2 separate regions of the Homo sapiens genome follow, and region 1 is linked to region 2. The links come from fine-mapping of genetic effects on gene expression. A gene starts in region 2. The other region holds a variant in brackets. All regions are shown on one strand. Distances are from middle to middle.

What was found. PIP is the estimated chance that this variant, and not a neighbour inherited with it, causes the effect. A credible set is the group of variants that fine-mapping cannot tell apart.
Region 1: its variant is the best candidate, but not a certain one, in a credible set for the expression of MYO5C in regulatory T cells (Bossini-Castillo 2019, PIP 0.62).

Annotation. Positions count from the first base shown.
Region 1 is chr15:52,118,907-52,134,280 of GRCh38, reverse strand. It overlaps GNB5 (G protein subunit beta 5), which reads left to right. Exons shown (of 13, transcript NM_016194.4): 9 at 812-903; 10 at 6,037-6,085; 11 at 8,237-8,333; 12 at 9,642-9,808; 13 at 11,513-15,374. The coding sequence ends at 11,524. Among named protein-coding and RNA genes, the nearest start is that of BCL2L10, 14 kb to the right of the region's middle. The variant TC/C (reference allele first, on the strand shown) is at 6,466.
Region 2 is chr15:52,287,476-52,302,849 of GRCh38, reverse strand. It overlaps MYO5C (myosin VC), which reads left to right and starts at 7,046. Exons shown (of 41, transcript NM_018728.4): 1 at 7,046-7,240. The coding sequence starts at 7,214. It overlaps LOC105370819 (a long non-coding RNA gene), which reads right to left and starts at 7,966. Exons shown (of 4, transcript XR_932250.3): 1 at 7,639-7,966; 2 at 2,804-2,976; 3 at 454-538. RefSeq lists a silencer at 7,223-7,382 and enhancers at 8,824-8,993, 9,867-9,916.

The sequences.
Region 1 (15,374 bases), 170 kb after region 2:
GCTATTTGACTATTGAGAGTCCACATTCTACTACTTAAGCTTGATAACATGACCACTCTGCAGGAACTTATCAAACTACTCCCAGAGCCTTGATAGGATAATGGAAAAACCCTCATGTCTGTGACCTTCTGGGTCATGTTAGCAACCTGAAGAGAGCATTGACTTTATAGGTGTTGAGGCAGACGCCCAGGGAGGTGACTTGCCTAAGCCACCCTGCGCGTCGATGGCAGCACCCTTATGGGCCCCTGGTTTGCAGATTCCCAGCCCAGCATGCTGCTGAGGGTGCAGATGGCCCGGGGCACCTGGCTCTCCAGCTTTGCTGAGGGCTGCCCCATACACCAAAACAAAGCTGGGACTCTCGGCTGCTCCATTTGGGCACTGCCAACCCATTTATTAATGTCACAACTAGAGAGGTCCCACCACACACCACTGCCTGCCTGCCTTGCCCTCTGGGCTTAGGGAGGCAAGTATAAAGAGAAGAGAGAAAAGAAGGAAAAATGAAAGGAAGGGAGATGCCCGGGGGAGGGTAAGGAGGGTTTGCCTCCATTCAGAAATGTGCAAAAGAAGAAAACAAGCTAAAAGAGGAAGCCGAGTGCCTTCCCTCCTGCCTCCCATCCCAAGACCTAGTTCTAGGCGTCTAAGGGCTTTCTGACTAAGGAAAGTGCCCTCAGGTAAAGCTAGTCTCAGAAAAGTGTGTTGTCAACCATTTGCTAATGGGAAATAAATGGTCTGTGTTATATAACTGGGACTCGTGCCTTGTCTATAGACATTCCTTAAAGTGGCCATAACTCTGGCTAATTTTCATTTGTAGGGATGTGACAAGAAAGCCATGGTGTGGGACATGCGCTCCGGCCAGTGCGTGCAGGCCTTTGAAACACATGAATCTGACATCAACAGTGTCCGGTCAGTGAGTAGAATGTTCATGCCACCTCTCTGTTCTGCCGGCATTGCCTGGCTTGGGTAATCCTTAGCCCAGGAACCGCCTCCAGACTCAGTTTACTTGGCTGAGAGAGGCCTCCCCGGGAAGAAAGGCTGATTGTGGTGGAACTGAACAGTGCTCCAGAACTCATGGAGAATTTTAATTTAATTACATTAGGAGCAATTAATATCCTCCCTAAGTTGAATCAGCATTTTTCATCCATTCATTCAATAAATATTTATTAAGTATTTATATGCTAGATATTATTCTAGGAACTGGGAATATATCAGTGAACAAGATGGACAAGGTCTCTATTCTCTTACAGGAGACAAACTAGACCAAACACAAATATACAATTTCAGATACTGATAACTACTATGATAAAAGTAAAACAGGGAGATGGGATGGGTCATTTCTTAGAGGTCAAAGACAGCCTCACTGAGAAGGTGATCTTTACATTGAGGCCAGGATCATGAAAGAGCCAGGCAAGCAAAGAGCTGGGGGAAGAGCACAGAGATGAGAGGTTAAGGGACCTAACAAAAGGCCAGGTGGTCACTGGAGAGTTTTGAGTTGGGAGGGGTAGGGGTGGCTAACCTGATCATGTTTTGCCTTTAAAAGATCGCTCTGTTGGGAAGCTGAGGCGGGCAGATTGCTTGAGCCCAGGAGTTCGAGACAAGGCTAGGCAACATGGCTCAACCCTGTCTCTACCAAAAAAAAAAAAAAAATTAGCAGGGCATGGTGATGTGTGGAGGAGGCTGAAGTGGGAGGATCGATTGAACCCAGGAGATTGAGGCTACAGTGAGCCGAGATGGTGCCATTGCACTCCAGCCTAGGCAACAGAGCAAGACCGTGTCTCAAAAAAAAAAAAAAAAACCCAAACAAACAAAAAAGATCACTGGCTGTATGGAGAATACATTGTAGGGAACAAGAATGGAAATATGATGACCAGTTAGAGGTGGTTGTGTGAGTTCAAGAAAGAAATGATGGTGACTGGAACTAAGGAAGACATGGTGGAGACAGAGAAATGTCAAGAATTATGAAATATCTGAGATTTTATCTACCTACAAGTTAACAAGTTGGGCTGTCATAGCTCATGGATGCTGGTAGAAGACACAAGACTCCTGGGTCAGAGATGAAGGACAGTTTATTACTCACAGCAATGGCAGTAGCCAGGCTATCAGCCTGTTTGTGCATACTTGAGCCCTAGTTCCACAGGGAGACATGAAAAGGGCCAAATGACACTGGCAGATGCAAGGGATGCACTATAGAAGAACCCTGAGCTTAGGGAACCCACATCTTTTATCGAGGGCAGCAAGCAGCAGTCCATTTACTAAGACAGGGAAGACTGGAGGGATAGCGGGAGGAGGTGGGCTTTGCACATGGATTTAGGAGTTCTTTTGGGGGCTAATTAGGTTTGAGATGCCTGTTAAACATTCAAGATGTCAAGTAAGTGGCAGGATCCATGAATTAGATCCCAAGAGAGAGGTCAGGACTTGCCACGTATGAAAGATGGTACTGTTGAGACAGTTTATAAAGTATTTTCATTATACTCAGAACTCCCAAGAATCTTCATTATACTTAGTGGGAAAACACGAGAATTATTTCTCTTAAAAACAAGAACAAAAAAGAATACTTGCTTACTTTAGTACTTCTTGCCCTCAAATGTGGGATAAGGAAAAAAGAAAAAAAGACTCACTTATTGTAACTGTGCAGTAATTACCTAGAAAATCAAAAGAAATCAATCTGAAAATTACTACAGATAGTAATTGAAGTTAGTAAAATGCAAGATAGAAGATAAAGCCACAAAAATAAGCCCCTGTGTATTAATAAAGTACAGTCATTCCTTGGTATCTGTGGGAGATTGGTTCCAGGACCTCCCTCAGATACCAGAATCCTACATAAAATGATGTAGTATTTTCTCAGGGTATGCTGAAGTTATAAAAATAAATAAATAATAAAATTAAAGTGGTATAGTATTTGCATATAGCCTATGCACATTCTCCCGTGTACTTTAAATCATCTCTCAATTACTTACAATATCTAGTAAGTGTAAATGCGATGTAAATAGTTATTAGACTGTATTGTTTGGAGAATAATGACAAGAAAAAAGGTTCAGTACAGATGCAACATTCCTTTTTCTTTTTTAGAATATTTTTAATCTGCAGTTGATTTTATCCATGAGTGTGGAATCCATGGCTATGGAGGGCCAATGTACAGCTTTAAAATGCACACACTCAGCTGGGCACCGTGGCTCACGCCTGTAATCCCAGCACTTTGGGAGGCCGAGGTGGGCGGATCACTTTAGGTCAGGAGTTTGAGACTAGCCTGGCCAACATGGTGAAACCCCGTCTCTACCAAAAATACAAAAATTAGCCAAATGTGGTGGCACATGACTGTAATACCAGCTACTTGGGAGGCTAAGGCACAAGAATCGCTTGAACCCAGCAGGCAGAGGTTGCAGTGAGCTGAGATCGTGCCACTGCACTCCAGCCTGGGCAGTAGAGCGAGACCCCTTCTCAAAAATAATAAAATAAAATGCACACTCTCTCACCTGAGCTGTTTCATCTCCCCTGAACCCTTTGCTTCTAACCTCCTTTGACCATCAGTTTTCAACTTAGGCTTCCCTCTGTCCAGAAAGCCCCCCTGGTTTCCAGGGCTGAGTTAGGTGCCCTCCTGTGTGAGGGAGACCACACTGCATGGCCAGTTTACTCATCGATCTCCTGCACTGAGGAAGTCAGAGAGAGAGACAGAGAGAAAATGTTATGGTGGTAACCAAACTTTTTAAAGTATTTATGAATTCTTAATGGCAGAAATAAAAGAAGATGTTGATAAATGGAGACATAAACCCAATTCTTGATTGATAGGGAACACTGTAACTTAAAATTTTAAATGGCCATTTTTCTATATACAGTGAATGCAGTTTCAATTAAGTTATTTTATGGAATGGTGTAAACTGACGCTGAGACTTCTGTGACGGATGCTACAGGGACTGATTCAGTGGGCCATGTTCAGGGTGCCTTTTGATTTTCTTCCAGGGCGAACACTGGCTACCATGTCCACCCAAGGCTGAGGTTATACTGAGCGTTGTCATTATTCTCTTAGCATGCCCTTGGTTATACACTGAATTAATTAGGACATGGGCTTGTATGAGAGAAGCCCAAATCACAGTGACTTAAACCAGATGGGAGTTTGTTCTCACCTTAAAATCTGAGCTGCTACGATAGCTCATTCTGTCTTCGCAACCCATTTCCTAGGATGGTGCTCAGTCTCCTGCCCCCACTGGCCTACCACCATGCCTTCTTTCCAGCTGGTTGGTAGAGGAGAGTTGCGCTTATCACTTCTGCCTGCATCCCATTAGCCAGAACATGATCACATGGCCACATCTGGCTACAGGAAGACTAGAAATATAGTTTTCATTCTGCCACCTGCCCAGGAAAAACAAAACAAAACGAACTAGTGTTTCTCAATGGGGTTCAGTATTAGCATTTTGGGAAGGACATTTCTTCATTGTAAGGGAATGTTCCATGTAAGACATTTACCATCCCTATGGCCTAGCCACTGAATTCCAGTAGCACCCCCTGGGTTTAGTGCCATTCAAAAAATCCTGCTTTTATTTAACCATAGCTATAGGAGACAGAGAGAGGGGACACTGGGGGCACAAAAGGTCTCTTCCAGATAATCTATGTATTACCTGGAAGATAATACACTTGGTCCCTGAACTTCCTACCAGCAGAAGGAAATCATAGCCCATGTGGCCCCAAATGGTATTTAATCTAGAAATCATTTTGACATTGGAATATGGATGCGTCAGATACTCCATGAATTCATAATGCTTTCAAAAATATAATGTGCCCACACTGTGATGGACTGACTGGGGCAGAGCTGAAAATGGTTAACATCTGTCATCCAGCTTTTCAATTCTCCATCCCCGTCTTTCAGGCCAATGTAAGTTAGTCACACAAAGTCAAGCTTCCCTCTCCTTTGCCAAATGTTTTGACTCTCACCTCCCGCTGGTAGGAGGAATAAATAATGTTTTAAAAGGACTCCTCCTCCTGCGGCTTTTGTGGAACTATAGGGTAGGTCACTGGTACGAGAAAGGAGAAACAGCGTGGGTGCGGTGACTCACGCCTGTAATCCCAGCACTTTGGGAGGCCTAGGAAGGTGGATCACTTGAGGTCAGGAGTTCAAGACTAGCCTGACCAACATGGTGAAACCCCGTCTCTACTAAAAATACAAAAATTAGCCAGGCATAGTGGCATACACCTGTAATCCCAGCTACTTGGGAGGCTGAGGCATGAGAATCGCTTGAACCTAGGAGGTGGAGGTTGTAGTGAGCCAAGTTCACGCCATTGCACTCCAGCCTGGGCAACAGAATGAGACTCAGTCTCAAAAAAAAAAAAAAAAAAAGGAGAAACAATGGAAGGTGTGGGGAACACAGCTGGGTGAGGCAGAGCGGAGGGGTTTAAAGACATTTGCTCTCATTCTGCCTCTGGCTTATAATTTAGGGCCCATATTTCTCACTAATCATTGAGAAGACAATGACTATAGCAGTAATAATTATCATTTATTGAATGTGATTTAATTGGCACCATGCCAGATTCTTTGCATGGACTGTCTTATGTAATCTTCACAGCAGAAAATATGCATTATTACTCTCACTTTTCAGATGAGGAAACTGAGGCTGGGCAAGAGGAAGTCATTTGCCAAAAGTATCGCAGGTAGTAAATGGTCAGTGCAGACATCCAATGTGGCTTTGTGCGTCTGATTCAGTGTCTGTGCTCATAACCACTTTCTTATCCCTGAGCTCTGGGCCAAGTCTTAGGAATTAGATATGTGATTGAGGGAAACTATATTTATAGGGGGTCTACTCTGTGTTCTGTGCCTGATATCAACACATATTATCTCACTCTGCAAGGCCAGTGTCACTGTCCCCCACTAACAGGGAAGAAAACTAGAGATCAGTGGGCCTGACATAGGAGCTTCCTCTTCCGTCTTCTGCTGCAAATGTTCCTTGAGTCCCTAGAAATAGAGATTCTGATTCCAAGGGCCTAGCATGGTTCTGATGGGCATCCAGGGTCAGGAGTCACAACCGTAGATAAAGTACTTTCTCTCTGCAGGTACTACCCCAGTGGAGATGCCTTTGCTTCAGGGTCAGATGACGCTACGGTATGTTTCTAAGTTTTTGAGAGCTTTTCCTAGTCAATAGAGGGATCTGCTAACTTATTTTAAGAAAATAACTATTTTTCTGGTTACAGAAGTAACGAGTATTCAATAAAGAAAATTTAGGGGAATATTAAATTACCTTGATCTCCTTACCCAAGAAAAATCATAGTTGGATGAATTCCTTTCTGTCTTTTTTTCTTTTTAACAAACAAAATGCTTTATAATTTGGCATTTTCACTTAACAGAATGTGAACATTTTCCCAGGCTGGTAAATATTTCTCTCCATTATATTTTCTTAGTGATTGAGTAGTATTCCATGTTATGAACGTGACATTCGTCTTCAATTTTTGGACATTTGGCTTTTCTCAAGGTTTTTTTTTTTT[TC/C]TGTTAAAAACACTACTATAAGTGTTTTTGTACCTCTCATCATTTCCTTAGCATTCTCAGACATAACTTGCTGAGCCATAAATAGACCCAGTTTTAAGGCTTTTGATACTGATTGCCAAATTATTTTCAAGAGAAAAAAATATTTTCTTGTTGCCTTCAAAATATCAAATATCTTATGAAGTAATGGTTTTCATTCTAATTTTCTGCTAAACAAATTACAAAAGAATAGATTGAGAGTTTTGAAATAATGAAAATTTAAAACTTCTGTATATCAAAGATACATAACAAAATATATATGGAAATATATTGTAACAAAATTATAACAAAATATAATTATAACAAATATATATGGAAAAATTCTTGCCACATACAGTACAGACCAAGTTGAAATCCTGTAGATACGAATGGAGTTACATAAACAATAAAATGAACACTCCAATTAAAGAAGAGGGTAAAATGCAGGTCATTTACAAAGCAGTGAATCCACAATGGCAAGTAAACACCTGAAAATATTTTCAAAGTCACCTATAATCAAAGAATTGCATGTTTTAAGTTTTAAGTCATCGGATGCCCATTTTGCCACTAGGATTAGCAAAGAAATGCCCAGAGGTTGGGTTGATGGGGAGCCTGGATCAACCCTGGGGTCAGGATAGTTGGCACCACCCTCCTAGAGGGCAGATTTGCCATATGAATCAAGAGCTTGAAAACATCTCTACTTGGCCAGGCACGGTGGTTCATGCCTGTAATCCCAGCACTGTGGGAGGCCAAGGTGGGTGGATCACCTGAGGTCAGGAGTTCAAGACCAGCCTGGCCAATGTGGTGAAACCCCATCTCTACTAAAAATACAAAAATTAGCCAGGCGTGGTGGCGGTCACCTGTAATCCCAGCTACTCAGGAGGCTTAGGCAGGAGAATCGTTTGAACCCTGGGGAGGCAGAGGTTGCAGTGAGCCAAGATAGCGCCATTGCACTCCAGCCTGGGTGACGAGCGAAATTCCATTTCAAAATAAAATATACAATAAAACATCTCTACTTCTGATCTGGTCATGCTATTTCCTGATAACTCTTCTAAGGATTCTATTTCTTAACCTAGTCTAAGGAAACCTAGTCTAAGGAAACCAGAAACACATGTAAAGATTTTTATATAAGAATAGTCATCATAATATTATTTATAAAAAAGAAAAATTAAACACAACCAAAACAACAGGGTTTGGCTAAATAGATTCTGATATATTCAATAACTATGTACATAATGTTTTTTGAAGTTCTCTTTTAATGATATGAGAAAGGACGTATAACCTAATGTTAATAAAAGCAATAATGAAACATCCAACCCATTCAGATACACACATAAAATACAAATAAGACTGAAGGAAACAGCTGAGAATTAGTAAATACCTCTAGGATTTAGGGTGACCTTCATTTCCTTCTGTTTACATTTTTGAATATTTCCAAATTTTCTACAGTGAACATGTGTCCTTTATCAGAAAAAAAAGTGGGGTCTCATTTTGTTTTTATACCTGAAGAAATTTGCTGTATTTGCCGTTTCTTTACTGACTCATAGAGATTAATAGGAATCAGGACTCTTTACTGACTCATAGAAATTAACAGGAGTCGGGACTAAAGGATGAAATAACAGTAGGGAAAACTAAGAAGTTTTTCCTTCATCTTTTAAACTACGCAAGTCACTAGCACCTACCTGTAGCTCTGTGGTCATCACGTCACCAAACTGAAGCCAGAAGTAAGTGCTTCTTTATTTATTTGCTCCCCAGTGTCGCCTCTATGACCTGCGGGCAGATAGGGAGGTTGCCATCTATTCCAAAGAAAGCATCATATTTGGAGCATCCAGCGTGGACTTCTCCCTCAGTGGTAAGATTTTATTTCAGAAACTTTTCCCAGGACTGTAAGACAGGACCAGAATGAAACTAGCGCTCCATCATCGCTCAGTTCCTTTTCATCAACTGAGCTTCCTGTGGACCAGTATGCGAAATCATCCATATTTGCACCAGTTTTCCTCCTCTGAGCTTCTGACCTCCCACTTTGTCCTGCCCCAGGCAACTTCACTCCAGGGGGAAATGAAGGCTGTGTACCCACCTAATGCTGTCCTTCAAGGCAATGAAGTGTCAGAAATTCACTTCCACAATGCTCTCAGGCATTTTCTCCCCAGCCTTTGCTTCTCTTCATGCCCCAAAGGGAACTTTTCTGTAAGGTGGAGGTGAAGCAAGAGTCCCTTCTTGGTGGGATACTGTGGCTCACGCCTGTAATCCCAGCACTTTGGGAGGCCGAGACAGGCGATCACTTGAGGTCAGGAGTTCAAAACCAGCCTGGCCAACATGGTGAAACCTTGTCTCTAATAAAAATACAAAAATTGGTTGGGCATGGTGGCGCATGCCTGTAATCCCAGCTACTCAGGAGGCTGAGGCAGGAGAATCGCTTGAACCTGGAAAATGGAGCTTGCAGTGAGCTGAGATCGTGCCACTGCACTCCACCCTGGGCAACAGAGCGAGACTCTGACTCAAAGGGAAAAAAAAAATGAGTCCCTTCTCAGTGCCTTGAAGCTCATGGCTCCTTTGTGGGAAGCTGCTGGTGAAAAAGCATAGCTCCAGAAGGATCATGTCAAAAAAAGAAAGAAAAATAGAAAGTTAAAGCAGAGGTAACAGGCTGGCTACCTGGACCACTCCATTTCCCCAGACACATCCCTAGACTAACTGCACGTGAAGTTCCTGCTACTGCCTGGAACATCTTTTCCCTGCCTTCTCTGCATGACAGACTCCGATTCAACCCTCAAGAGCCAACTCAAATGTCACTTTAACTTTCTCTCTTTAAACAAGTTTTACAAGTTGTTAACTAGCAAATGACTAAAAATAATTTACTTGTGTCTGCAGTGCCCTCCTTAATCCCCCTTCCTCTCTGGTCCCATAGCACTTTACGTGTGTAAAGCACTTGCATTATGGCTGTTACCATGGGATGCTACAGTGATCTGTTCCTTTCAGCCCCACATCCTCCAACAGGGACAGGGACTGTGCTTTCTCCCCTTTGAATCCTTGAGGCAAAGCACAGTGCCTAGGACTCAGTGCGCCTGAATCACTGCTTACTGAATGAGTGAGTAACAGTCATGTAATGAGAAACAGGAAGCAAGGAACTGGCTTAACAGCTATCATCTCACCCTGCTTCAAGGTCGCCTGCTGTTTGCTGGATACAATGATTACACTATCAACGTCTGGGATGTTCTCAAAGGGTCCCGGGTCTCCATCCTGTTTGGACATGAAAACCGCGTTAGCACTCTACGAGTTTCCCCCGATGGGACTGCTTTCTGCTCTGGATCATGGGATCATACCCTCAGAGTAAGAGGGATGGTTTTCTGTTTTCCTGTGTGTGAGAGGAGAGAGGACTGGTGACAGGCCTTCTGAAGCAGAGGGAAGGCTATCAGAGTAAGCTCAGGTGGGCCTGGTCAGCCTCGCCGAGCTCTCATTTCCACTCTGCCCACAGCCACAGAGGGAATGGGTTGCCTGGAGAGGTAGCGAGTGCTGCATCAGTGCAGGTATTCTCGCACAGATTCGACAACTGCGTATCAGCCTGTAGGTGAGGGAATAGTTAGGCTTGATCATCCAGAAAGTTCCTTTTGACCCTAAAAGTCTGATTCTTGTGATTCTAGCCTTTGGCAAACCACAGATAACCAGTCTCTCCTCCTATAGTATAGGGTTCTTATTACGATTATTGACCTTGTGATGACAAGGGTCACAAATCCAGGAGGCTGTGAAGCCCCTGAAATTATTACTTTTTTCTTCCTTTTTTTTTTTTTTTTTTTTTTGGTTTTTCTATAGCTTAATCTTGGAAATGAAGCCCCTGAAATTATATGCCAAATTTGGGGTGTATGCCTTTTGTCCTCGTGGCTTTCATTAAATTCTCAAAGAGAGCTCCATAACCTTGTTGAGTGTTGGCTCACCCAAAATACTACCAAAATAGCCTGTTTAAGCTGGGCATGGTGGCTTATGCCTGTAATTGTAGCACTTTGGGAGGCCAAGTCAGGCGGATCACTTGAGGTCAGGAGTTCCAGACCAGCCTGGGCAACATGGTGAAACCCTGTCTCTACTAAAAATACAAAAATCAGCCAGGCGTGGTGGCATGCACCTGTAGTCCCGGCTACTCGGGAGGCTGAGGCTGGAGAATCGCTTGAACCCAGGAGGCAGAGGTTGCAGTGAGCCAAGATCATCCCACTGCACTCCAGGCTGGGCAACAGAGCAAGACTCTGTCTCAAAAAAAAAAAAAAAAAGTAGCCCATTCATAGAGCAAAGCTAAATTTATTGCTTACCTCAGTGTGGAACATCAAGAATTGGTAGAGGTGTAGTGGCATCTCAGAAGAGGATGACAAAGGCATGCATGAGGTTTTTTTGGTCTGGTTTAAGGCAGGTCTTTGTTGGGGGGCACTTAATTAGGATTGGACAACTTTGTGGCATAATAGTTTTAGGATTGCTGGATGCAGGGGTGGGGGAGGGTTTCGAACAAACCCTTTAAAACTAAATAGTCATTTGATGCTCTATATTGTCCTGAGACATGGGTGTGTTTTCTAAAGAGGGTAAGTTGAGTAGTCTAGTGTTAGGATAGAGAAAAGGATTTTTGCAAAATTCCTGAAACAAATAAAAAAGTTATCTGTGAGTTCATCTTCCTGGGTAAGAGTGTCCTAAGTGAGTAGTCATGTTAATGTATATGGTGAGCTGTATGGGTTCAAATGGTTTTGGTTGTCAATCTGGAAGAGTAGCTAGGCCCGTAAGGAGGCTGCAGATGCCCCACAGACAATTAACTAAGGGAGGAGAAGATCAGGTCCAAAGAAGCACCTTTGCATTGCTAGGAGTACAGTGTTATCCTTCTAAGGCACATGAGCACCCTATTTTGGATGGAGTGTGTATGTTTGTGTGTGTGTGTGTGTACACACACATATATGTATGCCCATGCATGTGTGTGAATAGACTAATTTTATCTCTTTAAGCTCAAGTTTTATAAGTTGTTAACTACAAAGGTCTAAAAACTATCTGTTTGTGTCTTCACAGGTCTGGGCCTAATCATCTTCTGACAGTGCACTCATGTATACCTGAGAATTTGAAATCTTCACATGTAAATAGATATTACTTCTAGAGGAGCTTAGAGTTTATTGCAGTGTAGCTTAGGGGAGCAACCCATGGCTCACAGGTCACTAAGCGTCTCCAATATGACTATTAAAACTGTCACCTCTGGAAATACACTAGTGTGAGCCTTCAGCACTGCGAGAATACCTTCAAGTACAGTATTTTTCTTTTGGAACACTTTTTAAAATGTATCTGTTTTTAAGGTTATTCTAAATTATAGTAGCCTCAACTCATTCTGTCACCAGTAGAATTCAGCAGTTAATATATTCCATATTATTTCTTTGAATCAATTCATTTTCAGAGCACTTTAAAGTCTGATATTTCTCGATGTGCACTGTGATGCCTGGAACCTTCCTCTGGAAGTGCTGATTTTATGGACTGAGGACTGGTGACTGGTCTGTGATAGAAGCAAATTCCAATTCCAAATGTAATTAGACAAAAATCATTTTTTTAGAATGTGTTTTTATTGTAAAAGTATCTTTTTCAGCTTCCTGTTCTATTGTCTTTTTTCAGATACAACATTTTTGTCTATGGTGAACTGCTGTAAATGACGCAGAGAAATGCCTAAAAAGGACAGGTGGTTTGACTCATGGATGATGATGATGTCACTGTGCCACTTGGACAGGGCGTTTTCTCTGAATTGAAGGGAAAGCCAATGGTGTTTGTAAACAAATGCTTCTGAGAGCAAAGAAAAGTCTTCTGTGTGGGAACACAAGATAGTAAACTTATTTAAAAACCTATTAGTAGAATTAGTGGAAACACTTAGGTTAAAGTGAATCTTGTCCATATAAATTATATTCATGGCCGGGCGCGGTGGCTCACGCTTGTAATCCCAGCACTTTGGGAGGCCGAGGCGGGCGGATCACGAGGTCAGGAGTTCGAGACCACGGTGAAACCCTGTCTCTACTAAAAAATACAAAAAATTAGCCGGGCGTGGTGGCGGGCGCCTGTAGTCCCAGCTACTCGGAGAGGCTGAGGCAGGAGAATGGCGTGAACCCGGGAGGTGGAGCTTGCAGTGAGCCGAGGTCGAGCCACTGCAGCCTGGGTGACAAAGCGAGACTCCGTCTCAAAAAAAAAAAAAAATTATATTCATATGTATTGCATTGCAATTATAATTACATATGCAGATTGATTGATAGTCATGAATAATAACGTCTGCTCCTCTTACATAGAAAAACGATATTAAAAGAAGATCTTCTCTTTATTTGAGACTCAGAATTCCTTCTAGAAGAAGGAAGTGCTTTTTGTTATAGGATCCCTTCTTTTCCTTTTTTTGTTTTTTTGTAAGATGTAGATGCTTATTCTTTGCTTTAGAAAACTTCTCACTTAAAAAGATGGCATGCACCTAGGGGAATAAAAGGTCACCTCAGACACCAGGTGTCATTCCTGGTGAGGCCTGCCTCGTCGGTGGCCTGGGGTCTGCCGGCAGGTTCTGGCTGCACCTGAAGGCTGCGTGCACCTTGTCCCCTGGACAGGTCTCCTTTCCTGGCCCTGCTCCAGCCCAGCCCTTCTTCTAGTGGTAGCTCTGGCTTTGCAGGCCCAGCTCCAGGCCCTGCTCCTCAGAGAGACTCTTCCAGAGCTGGAGCTGGGCACAGCCATAAGACAGGACTGGACCAGATGCTCCTGTAAACATCCAGGGGTGTGCCAGGCCCACCCTCACAACTGCTTGTTCAGGTATCGTGATGGGCCACTCGGTCCAAAATCAGCCAGGCCATCTTTTCCATCATCTCACTTCAAATAAACATAATAATTATATTTGATCATTTGCAGAGCAGTTACTGGTGGTTTTATTGTACACTGGGGTCTGGGGTAGAGAGAGAAAAATGAAGGGCCTCTGCCTTCCTCCAGGGAGCCCAGAGAGAGTGCTTTTTAGTCCCAGTAGATTCCAGTCTGGGCAGGGGCTCAGGAAATGGGCCCAGTGTCTGGCCAGCTCCTGCCAGGTGCTGAAGGGGTCAGGGCACCATGGGATTCCTGAGCTCTGCTCCAGAATGTCCCACAGTGGCCCCTGGTGCAGCTGGCCTCCTTGTGGTGGCATCCCCAACCCTCTCTCCCACAGCCATTTTTTTTTTTGTCTCTGCACTGTGCCTTCCGGCTCCCAGAAGTGCAGGAAGGCACGAGAAAGGAAGGAAAGGTGGCCCAGGGAAGCACATTCCAGGTTCCATGTTTGGAGAGGTGGAGAGCATCTTCAGGATATGTGCAAAGTAGACTGTGACTTTCCAATCCAAAAAGCCACTTTAAGGGCCCAGGGAAAGTATTCCAGAGAATGCTTCCACTCCCCGCATGGGCAGGAAGCCTCCTTCGCTGTGAGCATGCGCTCTCGCAGTGGGTGCTGTCGGGATTTGCTGATGAGATACTTGATTTGGACTATGTGACAGCATGTGGAGACTCAGGGGTAAGCTCCATGGGATAGATTGTATTTTGCAGATTGAAAATAATGCTGAGTGCATTTTATAATCAGCTTTTCTTTTTTCCAGAGGACTTGGGGATAAACCTACCAAACCAATTGTGGTGAAGGGGCCAAACAGATGGGCCCCCAGGGGTGTAGAGCCTTGGGCAGCCCCCTCCTGGGCCAGAAAAAAGAAAGTTCAGGCAGAAAGGTGTGGGTGATGGGTATTTATGGGAAATATCTGTGACATGAAGCCAAGTCCAGTGCTTTAGAATGCGCGGTCAGCCTCTCACCGGTGGGGCCCTGGCAGCCGTCCCTCTTCTCCCAGGCGAGCCAGAGGTGGGCATCCCGTTGCCACTGCCCTCTTCCCGCTCTTCTACCTCCTTTGCACCCTTCTCTAGGTTATAAGTGGCTTAAAACAGCACAGGGTTGTAAGGGCCTTTGTGTCCCGGGCTCTCATAGTTGCCAGGCCAGCTGGCTGAAAGGTGGCACCACCGATACTGGGACTCCTCTGTGAGTTAGAGGGATGCCTTGGTGACATAAGAGGGCTGGCCTTCATTCACACCCACCTCTGTCACGGTCACAGAATATATGATAATATCTGAGTTTTTCTCAGCCTCAGTTTCCCCATTTGTAACATGGGATGGGACTAAAATATGTAAAGTGCCTACCTCAGCCTTTAGCACATCTTCAGGAAGGGTTAGTTCCCAGCTTCTCCCTGTGTCCTCCTCAGTCCCCTTCCTATTTGCCCCCCTCCCTTCTCCCTCCACCTATCTTCCCTCTTTCTCTTCCCTTCCCCTCCTCCTCCCTCTCTCCTCCCTCTCTCCCATTTCCCCCTCCCTCCCTCCCATCTCCTCCTCCCTCCCTCCCATCTCCTCCTCCTCCCTCCCATCTCCTCCCTCCCATCTCCTCCTCCCTCCCATCTCCTCCTCCCTCCCATCTCCTCCTCCCTCCCATCTCCTCCTCCCTTCCTCCTGTCACCCCTCCTCCCTCCCTCTCATCACCTCCTCCCTCCCTCCCATCGCCTCCTCTCTCCTTCCTATCTCCTCTTTCCTCTTCTCTGCCCCCTCCCCCTCTCCTCATTCATCCGGACTCCTTTTTCTAACCCTTCTCAATCTTCCCCCATTCCTCATCTCCTCTTCCTCTGTCTCCCTGTTCCACCTCTCTCCTGGTCTCCTTCCTTCCCCTTCTGCTGTTTCTCCCTCCCTCCTCCTCCCTTCCCATTCCCCTTCCCCCAGCACTTCCTTTTCTCCCCATCTCCTCCCCATTCCCCTTCCCCCAGCTCTTTCTTTTCTCCCCATCTCCTCCCCATCCATAGGCAGCCCCCACTCATATAGCAAATTAGTAATTCTCATCAGTTAGAGCTTCGTCTGGGCTAGTGGTTCTCAAACTTTTTGGTCT
Region 2 (15,374 bases):
TCATCCCAGGTTTAGCAGGCTACACTGCCTGAGAAGCAGCATCAGAGGCTTCCCACTATGGAGTAGTGGAGGAGGGCCAAATAGATCTTATTGAAATAAGCCAGCTGGTCACTAAAACATAAATAAGCCCAGTTTATTTACAAAAACAAGGACCAGTATGCAGAGCTACTACATTATCAGAAATATCTTGATTATAACCAAAAAATTACAAGACATGCAAAGAAACAGGAAAGTATGACTTATAAGCAGAAAAAAAAATCAGGCAACAGAAACTGCTTATAAGAATAACAAGGTGTTAGATTAACAAAGATTTCAGATCAGCCATTATAAATATATTCAAAGAACTAAAGGAAACTATGATTAAAGAATACATTTGATGAATGACAACAACAATACAAAGAACAGGAGGGAGGAATAGGAACCTTTTGATATTATAAGGTACTTGTACTGTACCTTATACACTGTAAAGTGATATCATGTTCTGTGAAGATGGGCATGGATTCGTTATCAATGTGTATTGCAAACTCCAGGGCAACCACTATAAAAAGTAAAAATAGAAGTGTAATTAATATGCTAAGAAAAGAGAAAAAACTGAATCACATTAAATGCTCAATTAAAACCACAAATGGCAGAAAAAAGAGTGGAAGACAAAAAATAGAAACAAGACCAAGGGCAACAAATAGAACAGTAACAAATATGGTAGATATTAATCCAAATCTATCAGTAGTCTGTGTAAATGTCCATGGTCTAAGTACACAAATTAAAAGACAGATTGTCAGAGTGGATCAAAACACAAGACCCAACTATATGTTGTCTACAAGGTGATTCTAAAATTCAGGTGGAATTGCAAGGGACACCAAATAGCCAGAACACTCTTGAAAAACAATAGCAAAGTTGGATGACTCTAATTTCAAGGCTTACTACAAAGCAACAGCAAACTAGACCATCTGGCACTGAAAGTAAAGATAGACATAGACATCAGTGGAATATAATTTAGAGTAGGGAAATAAACCTATGTGTTTATGATCAATTGATTTCAACAAGAGTGCCATAACCATTCGATGGGGAAAGAATAGTCTTTTCAACAAATAATGTTGACACAACTGAATAGCTAATGCAAAATAATAAAGTTAGGCCTTTATCTCATACCATATACAAAAAACAAACAAAACTCTGCTGGATGCAGTGGCTCACATCTATAATCCTAGTGTTTTGGGAGGCCAAGGTACAAGGATCACTTGAGGCCAGGAGTTTAAAACTAGCCTTGGCAATGTAGTGACCCCATTTCTACAAAAAAAATTTATCTAGGCATGGTGGCATGCACCTGAAGTTCTAGATACTACAGAGGCCAAAGAGAAGAATCACTTGAGCCCAGGAATTTGAGGCTGCAGTGAGCTATGATCATACCACTGTGCTCCAGCCTGGGTAACAGAGAGAGACCTTGTCTCAAACAAACAAAACAAACAAAAACTCAAAATGGGTCACAGGCCTAAATGTAAGAGCTAAAACTATAAAACTTAGAAGAAAACAAAAGGATAAATCTTCTTGACTTTCGATTGACAAAGGGATTCTTAGATATGACACCAAAAGCACAAATAACAAAAGAAAAAATAAACCGAACTTCATCACAATTGAAAACTTTTGTGCTTCAGTGAACACTGTCGAGAAAATGAAAAGGCAACCTGTATAATAGGTAGAAATATTTGCAAATCATATATCTGATAATGGAGTCGTATCTAGAATATATAAAGAACTCTTATTACTTAATAATAAAAAGACAATTTTAAAATGAACAAAGGATCTAAATAGACATTTCTCCAAAGAAGATACACAAAAGCACATGAAAAGATGCAGATGCCTGGCATGAGGGAAATGCATATGAAAGCCACAGTGAGATACTACTTCACACCCACCAAAATGCCTAGAACCAAAAAGTCAGGTAATAACATGAATTGGCAAGGATGTGGAGAAATCAGAACTCTCAGGCACTGCTGGTAGAAATGTAAAATGGTGCAGCCACTCTGGAAAACAATCTAGTAGTTCCCCCAACAGTTAAAGAACAGAGTTACCCTATGACCCAGCAATTCCACTCCTGGAAATACCCAAGAGAAATGAAGACATATATGTTCATACAAAAACTTGTACATAAATGTTTATAGCAACATTACTCCTAATAGCCAAAAGGTGGGAACAACCCAAATATTCATTAATTGATTAATATAATGGAATGTTACTTAATCCCTAAAGAATCACTGAAAAGTTAACTCAAGAAATAGAGTTCTTTTTAGGGGGGAAATTTAAATTATGCACTTAATAAAAACTATCACCAAAAAATTCAAGAAAGGGGAAACAGAGGGAGAAAAATACATGTGCCATATAGAAAACAACAAATGGCAGACATAAATCCAACCATATCAAAGACTACAAGAAATGTGAATGGATTACACACCCCAATAAAAAGGCAGAGATTATCAGACTGGATTTAAGAAAAACAAAAACAAACAACAACAACAACAAAAACAGGCACAGTGGTGCATGCCTGTAATCCCAGCTACTTGAGAAGCTGAGGAAGGAAGATCACTAGAGTCCAGGGGTTCAAGACCAACCTGGGCAACTGTTCTGTGTGGGAGACCTGCGAGGGGAGAAGGCACACACAATACTTTTAAGGGTAAACAACTTTATCCCATGTAAATGGCAATGCAGATAATAATAAGCAGATGATATAATAAGCAAATTGATATAATAAGCAAATTGCAATGGGAAGGGGAGAAAGGATAAGATATATATATATATTTACACTCACCAGACTATGGAGAATTCACCACCAGACCCGTAAGCAACAGCCTGGGCTCCAGAGTCGGCCACTCACTGGTGTAGATGAGGAGAGGTCTCATGAAGCTTCAGTGCAGTCTGGGACCCAAGCTCTTTTTGTAACAAGTTGTTTGGCATGAGGCCCAATCAGGAGGCCCTTTGCGACTGGGCTCAAGGAACCCAAAAAGTCAACTTTTTTTTTTGCAATTGTTGTTTTTCAATAACTAACGTATAGGAATAGATTGAAATGGGGATTTCTCCAAAAAAGTGCTGGATGAATGCCTTAAGGGGCTCACACAACCTATTCTGGGACTTGGTGACCATTGTTTGTGTCCATGTTCAATTTGATATTTAACTTTTCCTCCACAGCAACATAGCAAGACTCCATCTCTAAAAAAAAAAAAAAAAAAAAAAAAAAAGAAAAAGAAATAAATAAAATGGCCAGGTGTCAGGTGTGGTGGCTCACGCCTGTAATCCCAGCACTTTGGGAGGCCGAGGCGAGATCACGCCATTGCACTCCAGCCTGGGCAACAAGAGCTAAACTCTGTCTCAAAAAAAAAAAAAAAAAAAATTCCATATCCTAAATGTCAGAGTTCTAACTATAACACATCTAGAAGAGAATCTTTATGAGCTTAAGCTAGGCAAAAATTTATTAGATAACAACACCAAAAGCATGATCCACAAAATTAAAAAATGATAAATTGGACTTCCCCCAAATTTAAAGTTTTTGTGCTGCCTAAGACACCATGAAGAAAATGAAAAGACAATCCATATAGTGGGAGAAAATATTTGCAAACCATATATCGGTAAAGGGTTTGTGATCAAAATGTTTAAAGATGGTAGATTCAATACCTGTATTTACTCAACCTTCCTCCTGAAACTCCGGTAAGTAACAATAAACTCACAAAGGAAAACAGAATGAATGAGGAATGACAGCAACAGCTTGGAAGATGAAAAACAGATGGATAAATGTCTTTTATTTTCACAAGCAAAGAAAACTGAAACCTAACCCGGGACAGGCAGAAGCCCAGAAGCAATCCAGTTTGCACTACATAATTCCGAAAAGCTCAGGAATTAGGTTCAGAGGCAGCAGGTAACACTGAAAGTGGCATGCAGCTGAAAACACAGGAATTGGTTGAAAATCTGTTTAAATAGCAGTTCAAGTGGACTTGAACAGACATTTCACAAAAGAGAATACCAAAGTGGTCAATAGTCATCATAGAAATAAATGCAACTTGGACCCACAGTGAGACATCATAACACACTCATCAGAAAGGCTATTTTTTAAACTGACCACATCAAGTGGTGAGGATATTAAGCAACTAAAAGTCTCACACACTGCTGGTAGAAGTATACATTGATATAACAATTTTTTACAAATCTCTTTAGCATTATCCGTTAAAGTTGAGCATTACATACCTGTGATCCAGCAATTCTGCTCTGTTTATGTGCCCAACAAAAATACATATATTTGTGCATCAAAAGACACATATAAAATGTTCATAGCAGCATTATTCATAGTGGGTGTAAACTGAAGCAACCGAAATATTTATCAATAGGAGAATGAATAAATTGTAGAATATTTATACAATGGAATACTACTAGACAGGAATGAAAGACCTCAAACCGCAGCTACATGCAACAAGATGAATAAATACCATGTAAAAAGCCAAATGCAAGAGTTACACATGTGATTCCATTTATTAAAAACATCCAAAACAGGTAAAACGCATCTATGGTGATACAAATCAGAACAGTGGTTATCTTTGAGAGAAAATGATTTGAAGAAACAGAGAAAGTTTTGGGATATCGGTAATGTTCTACGTCTGGATCTGGGCGGTGGTTACTTTGGTGTGTTGATGTGTTCCATGAATAAGAATATATTGAGCTGTACACTTATTATTTGCACACTTTTCTGTATATAATTTTATTCTTCAATAAAAATTTTCTTTAAATAAAAAAGGCAGCTAGATTCTCTTTTTAACTCTGAGCAATCAGGCAGCTGTCACTACTCACCTTATAGATTTTCTTTTTCTTTATACAAAATAGAATTATTTGGGCAATAATATAAATAATTTTGTATATAAATAAATGCAAAATTAAATTTACCATGATCCTCTCTTTGTGGCATTTATCATTATTGATCCATGCCAGGCCTCTCTTTATATTTTTTGATCCCCTTTTTGAAATCTCCGATTCCATTTCTCTCCCTCATAGGTATCCACTCTTGCATATTTAATGAATGACTTTGTAATTTATCCTCCTTACCTCTATTCACACATACTTGTACCCATGAACAATATTCAGTATTGCAGTTTTTGTGAGTTTTTAAATATTAAAGACTTGGGCTAGACATCTATTCAACATTGTTTTTTATTTCTGAGTCAAGTAGATCATGTCTATTCCTACTAACAGCTGTAGAGTTTTACATGTATATACTATTTCTTTTTTTATTTTTCTCTGCTGTCTGCCATGTATATACTATTTTATTTATTCCCCTATTGATATTTAGATGCTTCCAACTCTTTGATAAATAACTATGTTGTGATGAACATCTACTTAACTGTCTCTTTGGGTGACTGTGAGAATTTTTCTGCCTACATTTATTTTCATAACTATTCTCAAATTGCTCTCCAGGATGGCAGTATATTCCCACCAGTTATGTAAGCAAAAAAAGTTTTTATTTTTTTTATTTATTTTTTTTTTTTTTTTGAGACGGAGTCTCGCTCTGTCGCCCAGGCTGGAGTGCAGTGGCGCAATCTCGGCTCACTGCAGGCTCCGCCCCCTGGGGTTCACGCCATTCTCCTGCCTCAGCCTCCCGAGTAGCTGGGACTACAGGCGCCCGCCACCTCGCCCGGCTAATTTTTTGTATTTTTAGTAGAGACGGGGTTTCACCGTGTTAGCCAGGATGGTCTCGATCTCCTGACCTCGTGATCCGCCCGCCTCGGCCTCCCAAAGTGCTGGGATTACAGGCGTGAGCCACCGCGCCCGGCCAAGTTTTTATTTTCTCACATCCTAGGCAGTATCTGAGATTGTCTAACCTAAATGTTTTTGCCAATATGATGGGTAAAAAGCAATATCTCATTGTTGTTTTCATTTGTATTTATCTGATTACTGCTAAAGTTGACATCTCCTTGTATGCTAACAAGCCATTTAAGTGTCCCCATCTGTGAATTGCCTATTAATTTTTGTCAGTTTTAAAAATTGGATTTCTTTTCTTTAACCGATTAACAATTCTTCTATATGGAAACTACTATAACCCAACATTTTAAAGATATTATCCCTCTTTTATTCCTAATAATTTCCCGGTTTTAAGTTTTAATCGTGAATCCATCTGGAGCTTATTTTTGGATGCAGTGTTTGCCACGGATCTGCTTTTATTGTTTTTCCATATAACGGGCCCATCTAATAAATATTATTTTATTTCCCTATCTGGTCCTTAAGGCTACCGTATAATGTAGGGCCCTGCTGGGGGGCTCCAGCATGTTCCATTACTCACGTATCCGTTCTCACGCAAGTGTCACACTGTTTTAATGACTACTGCTTTGTTATGTCCCTAAATATATGGCAGGACAAATCTCTCCTCTTTGAGAATTGTCTTAGTTATACAGGGCTTTTATTCTATATGAAATATAGAATCATTGTACAATTCTCCAAAAGTTCTGTAGGATTCTGACGCCAATATATTAGGCATATATATTGATTTGGGTAGAAGTGACACCTTGACCATATTAAATATTCCCAGCCAGGAAAATGGCATGTCTCCCGTTTACCTGGGCCTTCTTTTAAGCTCTTTAAGAGAATTTTAAACATTTTCTCCACAAAGGCCAAGGGCATTTTTGCGAGTGTAATCTCTGGATACTTTATATTTTCACTAATATTGTAAATATCTTGTATTGCATAGACAATGCTCATATAAAGGACCATTACTTATTTTTGTATTTGATTTTGAATACGATGACCTTGCTGGACTCTTAACACATTTCTTTGTGTTCAGTACGTTGATTCCCTTGGGTCTTCCATTTAAATGGTCGTATCCTCTGCTCTTTGAGGAGCTAACACTCGGGCCGGGCAGCCTCCGGATGCATCTGTTCCTGCCTGGCAGCGCGCCCCGGGCCCCAACCTTCTCCACCCGCGCTCCCGCCAGGTGCAGCCGCCCGGCCCCGGCCAATGGCAGCGCCGACTAGCCGGGCCAAGCTTGGAGGGACCAATCCCGCCGCTGCCCCCTCCCCTCGCCGCCAACTCGGGAACGGGAACAGGAGGCCGTTGGAAAACTTTGGGCAAGATGGCCCGGCGGTGATTTCCGCGGCGGTCTCTCCTGCGCCCGGCCTCTGCGGCGCAGGCCCAGCCCCCGAGCCTCGCACGTTCGGCAGCCCCGGCCTGGCCCCGGCCCCTCCTGCCCATGGCGGTGGCCGAGCTGTACACGCAGGTAGGAGGGTCCGCTGGGCTCCTGGGAGCGCTGTGGGGGAGCCGGCCCTGCTAACGCTGACTCGACCTGGCGCCCGGGCCACACCTGCCACACCTGCGCACCTGACACGGCAGGGCGGGCGGGCGCGCGCTGGGGGCCGCGGAGGCGCCGCGGAGGGGCCACGGGGACCGGGGACACGAGCGAGCGTCGCCCCTCCAGGGCCCCGGCGTGCTCCGTCCCTGCCCGCGGGTAAGCCCCCTCCTGGCTCCGCTGCGCCTGGGTGCCCTGTGGGTGGGAAGACCCTGTGGGAGGGGCCGCCCCCTCCGCCGCTCCGGCCTCGGGGCCTAGAATCCCCAGTGCCCAGGGGTCGCGCGTGCGTCCCCATCTCCCGGGACTGGAGCGCCTCGGTCCCTTCCTACCACACCACGGGTGGAATCAGAGTTGCCCATGCGGACGTAGGAAGCTGAGACGCCGGCCAGTCTCCTGGCCCCTCCTGGGACCCCCTTGAACGAGCTGGCATAGAAGCTTATGGCCGCAGTGTTCGGGCTGCTTTCTAGAATTCTGTGTCTTCAAAGTGCGTGAACGTGCATGTAGGCTCATCAGAAGCTGAAGCAGCCTGGGTCACAGGCTTGAGGGCACTGCAGTGGCACCAAGCGCTTGGGGAGCCCAGGGGCCACGAGGTGCAGTCGTAGGCTCTTTGCCTAACATCTGTACTGTTAGCAACAGTACAAACACCACAGTTTCTAAAGCGCCTTTCATATACCCTGACTCTGGGAAACACTAGAGCATTCCTCAGAAGCTTCCTTTCTGCTGGCTGGGGCTCCACCTCTTACCTCGGAAGGGCAGCGTTCCCACATATGTCCCAAACCCTCTGAGATGGGCTTGGGTAATTATTTGGATAAAGAGTGTGACAGTGTTAGCACTTTTGAAAAAAAAAATCCATTTGAATAGCCATAAAGCCTGATCCTCCTATACACCAGTTGGGGAAATCTAGAGACCTCAGTATTCAGACGAGTGGAACTAGAATCCATCCATTTCCCCGGACACATGCTCTAGCTTTCTACTTTAAAAGATGCTTTTGCTGTAGATAGAAAAGATAGTTATTTAAAAAATCATGTTTCAATGGTTTAAGCAAACGTTTTTCTTCTACTTTGATTACTTAGTAACAGTCCGGACACAAAGCAACCGAACTGTAGTTTCTCCTCTATTGCATCTCCATTAACTGGAGTTCTAAATGGACAGTGTTTGAATTGCCCTAGTTTTGTTCTAGAATATTTTCACCAGTGAGACTGTGAGCCCTCAGACAGCCAACAGCGCTTCTTCAGCCTTCAGTTTACTGGAAGTGAAAGAAAAGTCTTGGACTAGTCTTCGACGATACTTTGGAGGACAGAGAAAAATGCTGCTGCTGAACCTATTTGAGGTGACAGTATTTCCAGAAGCAGAAACACACAGGTGCAAGCACCCCTATTTTTAGGTGCCTCAAACCTCAGATATTTATTAAATGTCTAGTAAGTACCAGGCACAATGTAAGAAAACTGATAGGAAGGAGTTTAAAGGTACAAGCTTGGAGGGAATGAGAATCTGAGAATCCCAGAGACTGACGCAGCCTGATGGCCATTCCCACTGACCTTGTGTCCACGTAGACACCTGTGTTCCTAGGCTGCCACCTCCCTTCCTGGTGGGCAGTTAGCCCCCATTTTGTCTGTTCTGGAGGTGTGAAGGGGAGGGCCATGGCAGCCAGAGAGCGAGGTCAGGGCTTTATTCCCCAGTGTGGGTTTTGAGTGGGGGCTGGCAGAATCAAGGGTGGTGTGTTAGGACTGTTAGATTTGTTATGTATGCCAGCAGCGCCCTTGGGCTGTGGAGGAGAGAGGCCGGGGTCACGTAGCTGAATTCTCAGGTCATTCCAGCTGTTGGAAAAGAATTAGAGCTGCAGTGTTGGCCATGGAGGGTGGAGGCAGGTGAGGCTGAGAGGCTGGACTGGGGAGTGGGGTGGGGGTTGAAGGGACCAGCCAAGGATGACATTTGAGGTTAGAGTCTGTATGAGAGACAGCAGGGTGGTGCCCTTGAGTGAATTAAGGATGTGGCATGAGGAGGAAATATTTCTTAAGAAAGTCATCAGGCAAGTTCTGTATTTGCAGGGGTTGAAGGGGTGAGGGGGCTTCCAAGGGAAGGTGCCTTGCAGGGTGGGAGGTGTCAGAGGGAGGGGATGGGCCCTGCCGAGGGTCTTCTGCCCAGAGGTGGTCACTGAAGCCAACAAGACACTGAGGGTCTCACCAAGGTGGGAGAAGGCAGACAGAGAAGAGGGTGAGGGACAGGCCAGCGGGGAATGCATCTGTGCAAGGAGTGAGAGGAAGCAGAAGGGCTGAGATGGAGCCATCCAGAGGAGGAGCTAACAGGGGAGCTGGAAGCCACCCTGTGGGAACAGGGAAGAGGGAACTCCAGGAGAAGTCTTGGTGAGGGGAGCAATCGCTGCCAGGTGAGGTGTAAAATCATCCATCTCTTTTGAAAAGCTACAGGTGCCATGCCTTAGAAATGTTCAGAGCAGCAGTTCCCCTATTTGAAATCTCTCTTAAGAAGAGCCGGTCTGGCATTCTCTGCTCTACCACCTCTAGAGGCTCCCATTGCTTTCAGACTCACTGACCAGCCACGAGGTCCTGCCTCTCTCCCTGCCTTCCTGCTCTTACCTGGCTCATGCTCTGCCAGACTCCTTGCCATTCCCTCAATGCCTTGCTTGCACGTTGCCACTGCGTGCCTTGGCACACGAACTCCACCTGTCTGAGCCTCTGTCTGTCACCTTTGCTCATGGCACCTGCACCTTCCACCTTCAATTTGAGCAGGACCTCTTCTGAGAAAGCCTCTGCAGCTAGCCCCTCCACACGGTGCCTTCCATATTGCCTGGTAACAGCTCGTGAACTCTGTGTCTCCACTATTGACCAAGAGCTTTCAGTGAGCAGGGGACAGTGGGAGCTTCATAAATGTTTGATGTGCACCTGTGTGCATGACTGAACGTTTTTGCTTACAGAAATAGCTAGGACCATGGAGACGATGATATGGATGATGTTATTTTTATCTCTATGTGCTAGATGCCATCCTCAGAGTTTCATGTGCCGCCTCTCATTTAATCTGGATAAACAACTCTGTGTGTTAGATGATCTCACACTTTTAGAAATGGCTCAGGTCAGGTAAGTTGCTAAGGTAACATACAAGTGATGGAGCCGGAGTTGAAAACCTATGTTCTTAGTGTCTCTCACTACCACCACCTTGGTTCAACCGCCTTTATTATCTTCCTCTTCTTCAAGGGATCTGACCTTTTCCCCGCACACAGTGGGCTTGTGAGAAGTTCATCCACTTTCTACCTACCTCTCCTGACACCTGCTTATTTGTATTTTTCCTTATAATAACTAAATTGGAACCAATCCCAGTGTCCAGCAAGAGGGGTAAAGTTAAGTAAATTATGGAAGATTCACATGGTAAAACAGCATGAAGCCATTAAAAGTACTATTTCTGAAGAGTTCATAACATGAAAACATGGTTATGTGAAAAATGGGGCACAACAGTTTATATACTGTATGAAGATAAATATAAAATATGCGGCCGGGTGCGGTGGCTCACGCCTGTAATCCCAGCACTTTGGGAGGCCGAGGCGGGCGGATCACGAGGTCAGGAGGTCGAGACCATCCTGGCTAACACGGTGAAACCCCGTCTCTACTAAAAATACAAAAAAATTAGCCAGGCGTGGTGGCAGGCGCCTGTAGTCCCAGCTACTCAGGAGGCTGAGGCAGGAGAATGGCGTGAACCCGGGAGGCGAAGCTTGCAGTGAGCCGAGATCGCGCCGCTGCACTCCAGCCTGGGCGACAGAGCGAGACCCTGTCTCAAAAAAAAAAAAAAAAAAAAAAAAACATAAAATATGCAAACAAAGAAAAAAGACCACACATATCACTGCCTAAAGATTGGACGGTCTTTCTTTCTAGTAGCTGCAGAGAAGTCAACAAGGATGAAGGCTGGGGATGGGTTGTTAGGTTTGGCCGCTAGTTTTGGTCCCTGGCGTCGTTTCTGTTTGGGTAGAACTGTGAAGGGGAAAGGGAAAGTCTGACATGACCCGTGAAAGGGAGGAAACCAGCAGAGGACTGCAGTTTGAAGACATAAGAAAGGCACCAGGCATGGGTTAACCTCAGAAAGGAGTGAGGGCCTGAGGCCACAGTGGCAGGAGTTGAAGGCACAGAGATACTGACAGAGAAGGAAGAAAGCCCAGAGAGCTTGACAGCTGCTGAGCAGGAAGGGTGGGTAGGACAGACGGCTTGAGGAGAGTGACAGTGCCACCAACCATTTCTCTGACAGCATCATTCCAGACCCTCAGCATCCAGGCCACCTTCCTCTGGGTGAATTTTCACACCTTGATGCCCATTTTAGTGGCACTATTCTCTAGCCTTGATCTGCTCAGCCATGAGTACGGTGCAACTTCTTGTGAGCATCCCTCAGTGTATCCTGGCATTATGTTAGTGCTTTAAGCAGAGCTGGTACATGCTCTGCCCCTGGTGGGTCAAATCAAGTCCTGGTCCTGCCCCTTACTAACTGGGTGACACCAGGCAAGTTACTTAACCTGAGTTTCCACACCAGTATAATGGACTGAATCATGCTTACCAGCTGAGGAGGTCACTATGAGGATTAATGGCGTGTAAAATCCTTAGCACAGCACCTGACACATAATGCTTAATAAAGATTACTCAAATACTGATGCTATTATAATACAGTTGATTTTTTTTACCTAAATACAGACTTTACATTTATCCCTATAAAATTTTCTGTTTTGTTTAGTGCCCAGCGTTTCTGTAGCTTGTAAAAACCTTTTGAATCTTGATCATCTTTAGCTAATCAATCATTTCATCTGCTTGTTTGATACATGTGTTTTGTTTTTTCATCTACGATACTGGTGAAAGTGTTGAATGAAAGGGGAGGCGGTAGAGCTCTGTGGCATGCCTCTGGAGACCTTTTTTTTTTTTTTTTCCTAAAGGTTGCTCTTGCTCATTAATTAGAACTCAGGTTATGACTGTGTAGTGACAGGTTCACTACAGTCATTCCACCATCTGTTTCTTTCACTTGTGCAAGAGGAACTCACAAATATCTTCAAAGTTCTGCTGAAACTCAGATGTGCAAGGTCAAAAGAAGTGTCTTGACTAGCAGTCCAGGGCCCCTGTCTAAAATGAGGTCAAAGTTCAGCGTAACGATTTTTTTTTTAATTTGGCTAATTCTAAATAGTTTTTAGACTTCTATATACCATTAACAACTCTGGAAAATTAAATGTATCCATTGTATTATGTATGGGTAGTTCAAAGAGAAAAAAAGGGATGAAAAGACTGAAATACTTAGTCTTTAATTGGTGCAACTGAACCACTGGGAATTTGAATTTTTGTTCAAAAGTTGTTTATGGAGTGCTAGTTATGGGAAGCCTTTGCATTGGATTCCAAGCACAAAGACCAGGCTCTTAAAGTTCAAATGCCAGTGGGGGAGATGGGAGGCAGCCTAGATACCTGGGGGAGGAGCAGAGAGCGCTCAAGGGAAGCATCCAGCTCTGCTAGATGGCAAGTGGCAAGGAGAGTGCCAAGATGAGGAGTGTCTCCAGCTACTCCAGACTGTTCAGAGCTGTTTGCTCTTGGATGGGGAGAGGATGGGTGGGGCTAGGGTGGAAGGAACAGAAGTACACAGCAGAAAGCCAAAGAAGGCCTGCCATGTTCCAGAAAGTGCTAGTGGTTTTGGGTGGCCACAGGCAGAGGGTGGATTGAAAAGAGGGTGAGGCCTGAGCAGGAAATTGGCCAGAATGCTGGTTGCCCAGGCCTGGCTCTTCCTCAAAACCCATGTGGGGGTTGATTTTCAAAGCTTTTCTCTTGCCGGGCCCCACCCACAGGAATTCCAATCAAGTACGGATGAGAGAGTCTGTCTGCCCAAAGAAACCTCGTGCTCAGCCTGGCTGAGGAAGCCTCCGGGGGCTGCTGCACCAGTCAAGAGAGGATTGGTGGGGGTAGGGTTGGGGGCTGACTTATGGCCATGGCAAGGGGGCTGGTAGGCAGGGGCGGACAGGAGAGGGCTTTTAAAAGGCAGTCTTTTCTAGCACCTGGTGACTGTTGGGCTGTTGGGGTGGAGACACAGAGGGGTGCCCAGCACTGTCCCAGGCTTCTGACATGAGGGGCAAGAGAGCTAGGAAGGAGGAGCGTCGGCATCACTGGAGTTTGGAATTTATGAGTCTATGAGGACATTTAGGGGCTGACATCTTGGAGGCAATTGGAAATGTGGTGTAGAGCTCCAGTGCACGATCTGGGTGGGAGGTCTCAGATGCACAGGTGCCAGGCAGTTGCAGAAGCTGTGGAATTGGGTGGAACTCTCCAGAAACAGCCTATCATGAGAAGAGGCTGGGAAGGACCTTGGGAGACACGGACATGGGGGGCAGTGGGAGGGGCAGGGGAGCCAGGGGAGGGGCCCATGAGGAGCGAATGAAGAGGAGGAGGAAGAGAGGGGCATGGTGTGACAATCTGGCCTGGCTGACCTGGAGTGTGGACACTCCCAGTCCAGAAAGCGGTTCTAGGAGGGAAACACATGTCGTCCCATCTTGTCCCATCTTCCATATAAGTCTTCAAGTCATTTCTGTGGCTCATGCCAGAAGATCCCTCAGAAAAGCAGGCGGCGTGAGAAGATGCTGTTCTCATCTCACCTGTGTGCCTTGGGGGGGTGGCTGGCATGGTCTTGAGCTCATAAGGTTCAGTGGTCCCGAGCCTCTGCCTCAGCTTGGCGCCTTGGCATGGGGAGGGCACTCAGGGAAGTTGGGAGGTGGCCCTCTCTTTCCTGGCTCCGCTGAAGGGCTTGGCGAGCTGTTCCATCCCAGTCCACAGACTCCTGCCTCATGGGAAGGCCCCATATTCTGGAGGTCAGTTGACAGCTGGTTACATTGTTTGCATGAACTGCGGACTGCATCTGTTTGGATGAATGCTGTAAAGTTAACTCTTCCTCCAGTTTGAAGCATTGCTTTGTGGGTAGAGGAATGTGAGGGAGGAGGGGACAGGAATGAATGGGTGGAACTTACCCGGAGCTGAGTAAACTCACCGTTGTTTACTTACCAGGCTGGGTTTCAGCTGCAGGGCACTCAATGCCAGCAGAAGCACCAGGATCGCAGGGTGTGGGCGGCCTGGGGTACTGGGCTGAGGAGTCACTGGTCTTCAGAAGAGAAGCCGTCAGTGGTTACGTATGTCCTAATACTGCCTGCCATTTAATACCACTTTTAGCTGAAACCAATCCTAAATTATAGTTAGGAGAGCACATGGACTCTCAAGTAGATGGTTGCAGTTCAGAGTTCAGGATTACTTTCAGGGCCAGATTCGCTTAACTAATACGGAGTTCAAACTAGGAGTCACAGGCCCTAGCTCTGCTGGAGTCCTGGTCCTTTGAGACTCTGTCTGCTGTTTGGTGAGTTATTTCTCTCTGGGCTTCAGTTAGGGGCTCTGTTAAACAAAAGGATTGATTGGCCTAGTGACTTTCACATTACTTCTCAGAGCCCAGGCTTCCTTGGAAGGCCCCCAGGGCTCTCAGCTCCAGCTCCCATCAGAACACCTCCACTTTCACCAGCTTCGCTTAGCCAGCTGTTACAACTTAATTTTTTTTTTTTTTTGAGACGGAGTTTCACGCATGTCACCCAGGCTGCAGTGCAATGGCAAGATCTTGCCTCACAGAAACCTCCGCCTCTCGGGTTCAAGCGATTCTCCTGCCTCAGCCTCCCAAGTAGCTGGGGTTAGAGGCATGCGCCACCACGCCCAGCTACTTTTGTATTTTTAGTAGAGACGGGGTTTCTCCATGTTGGTCAGGCTATTCTCAATCTCCCAATCTCAGGTGATCCACCCACCTCGGCCTCCCAAAGTGCTGGGATTACACACGTGAGCCACCGCGCCTGGCCAGAACTTCCTTTTGAAGTAGGCTTTCTGCAGCTCTAAAAAGGAGTTTGACAAACAACTTGGAGTAGATAATCAGTTCTGAGACTCTGTAGTGGCCAATTCTTGATAAATTTGGTAATTCATGTACAATTCTTTTGGGGGGCATATATTTTGATATTTGCCTTTAAAGATTAACATTCATTGTTCTGATTATGAAAGTAATAGGTACATATTGTAGAAAA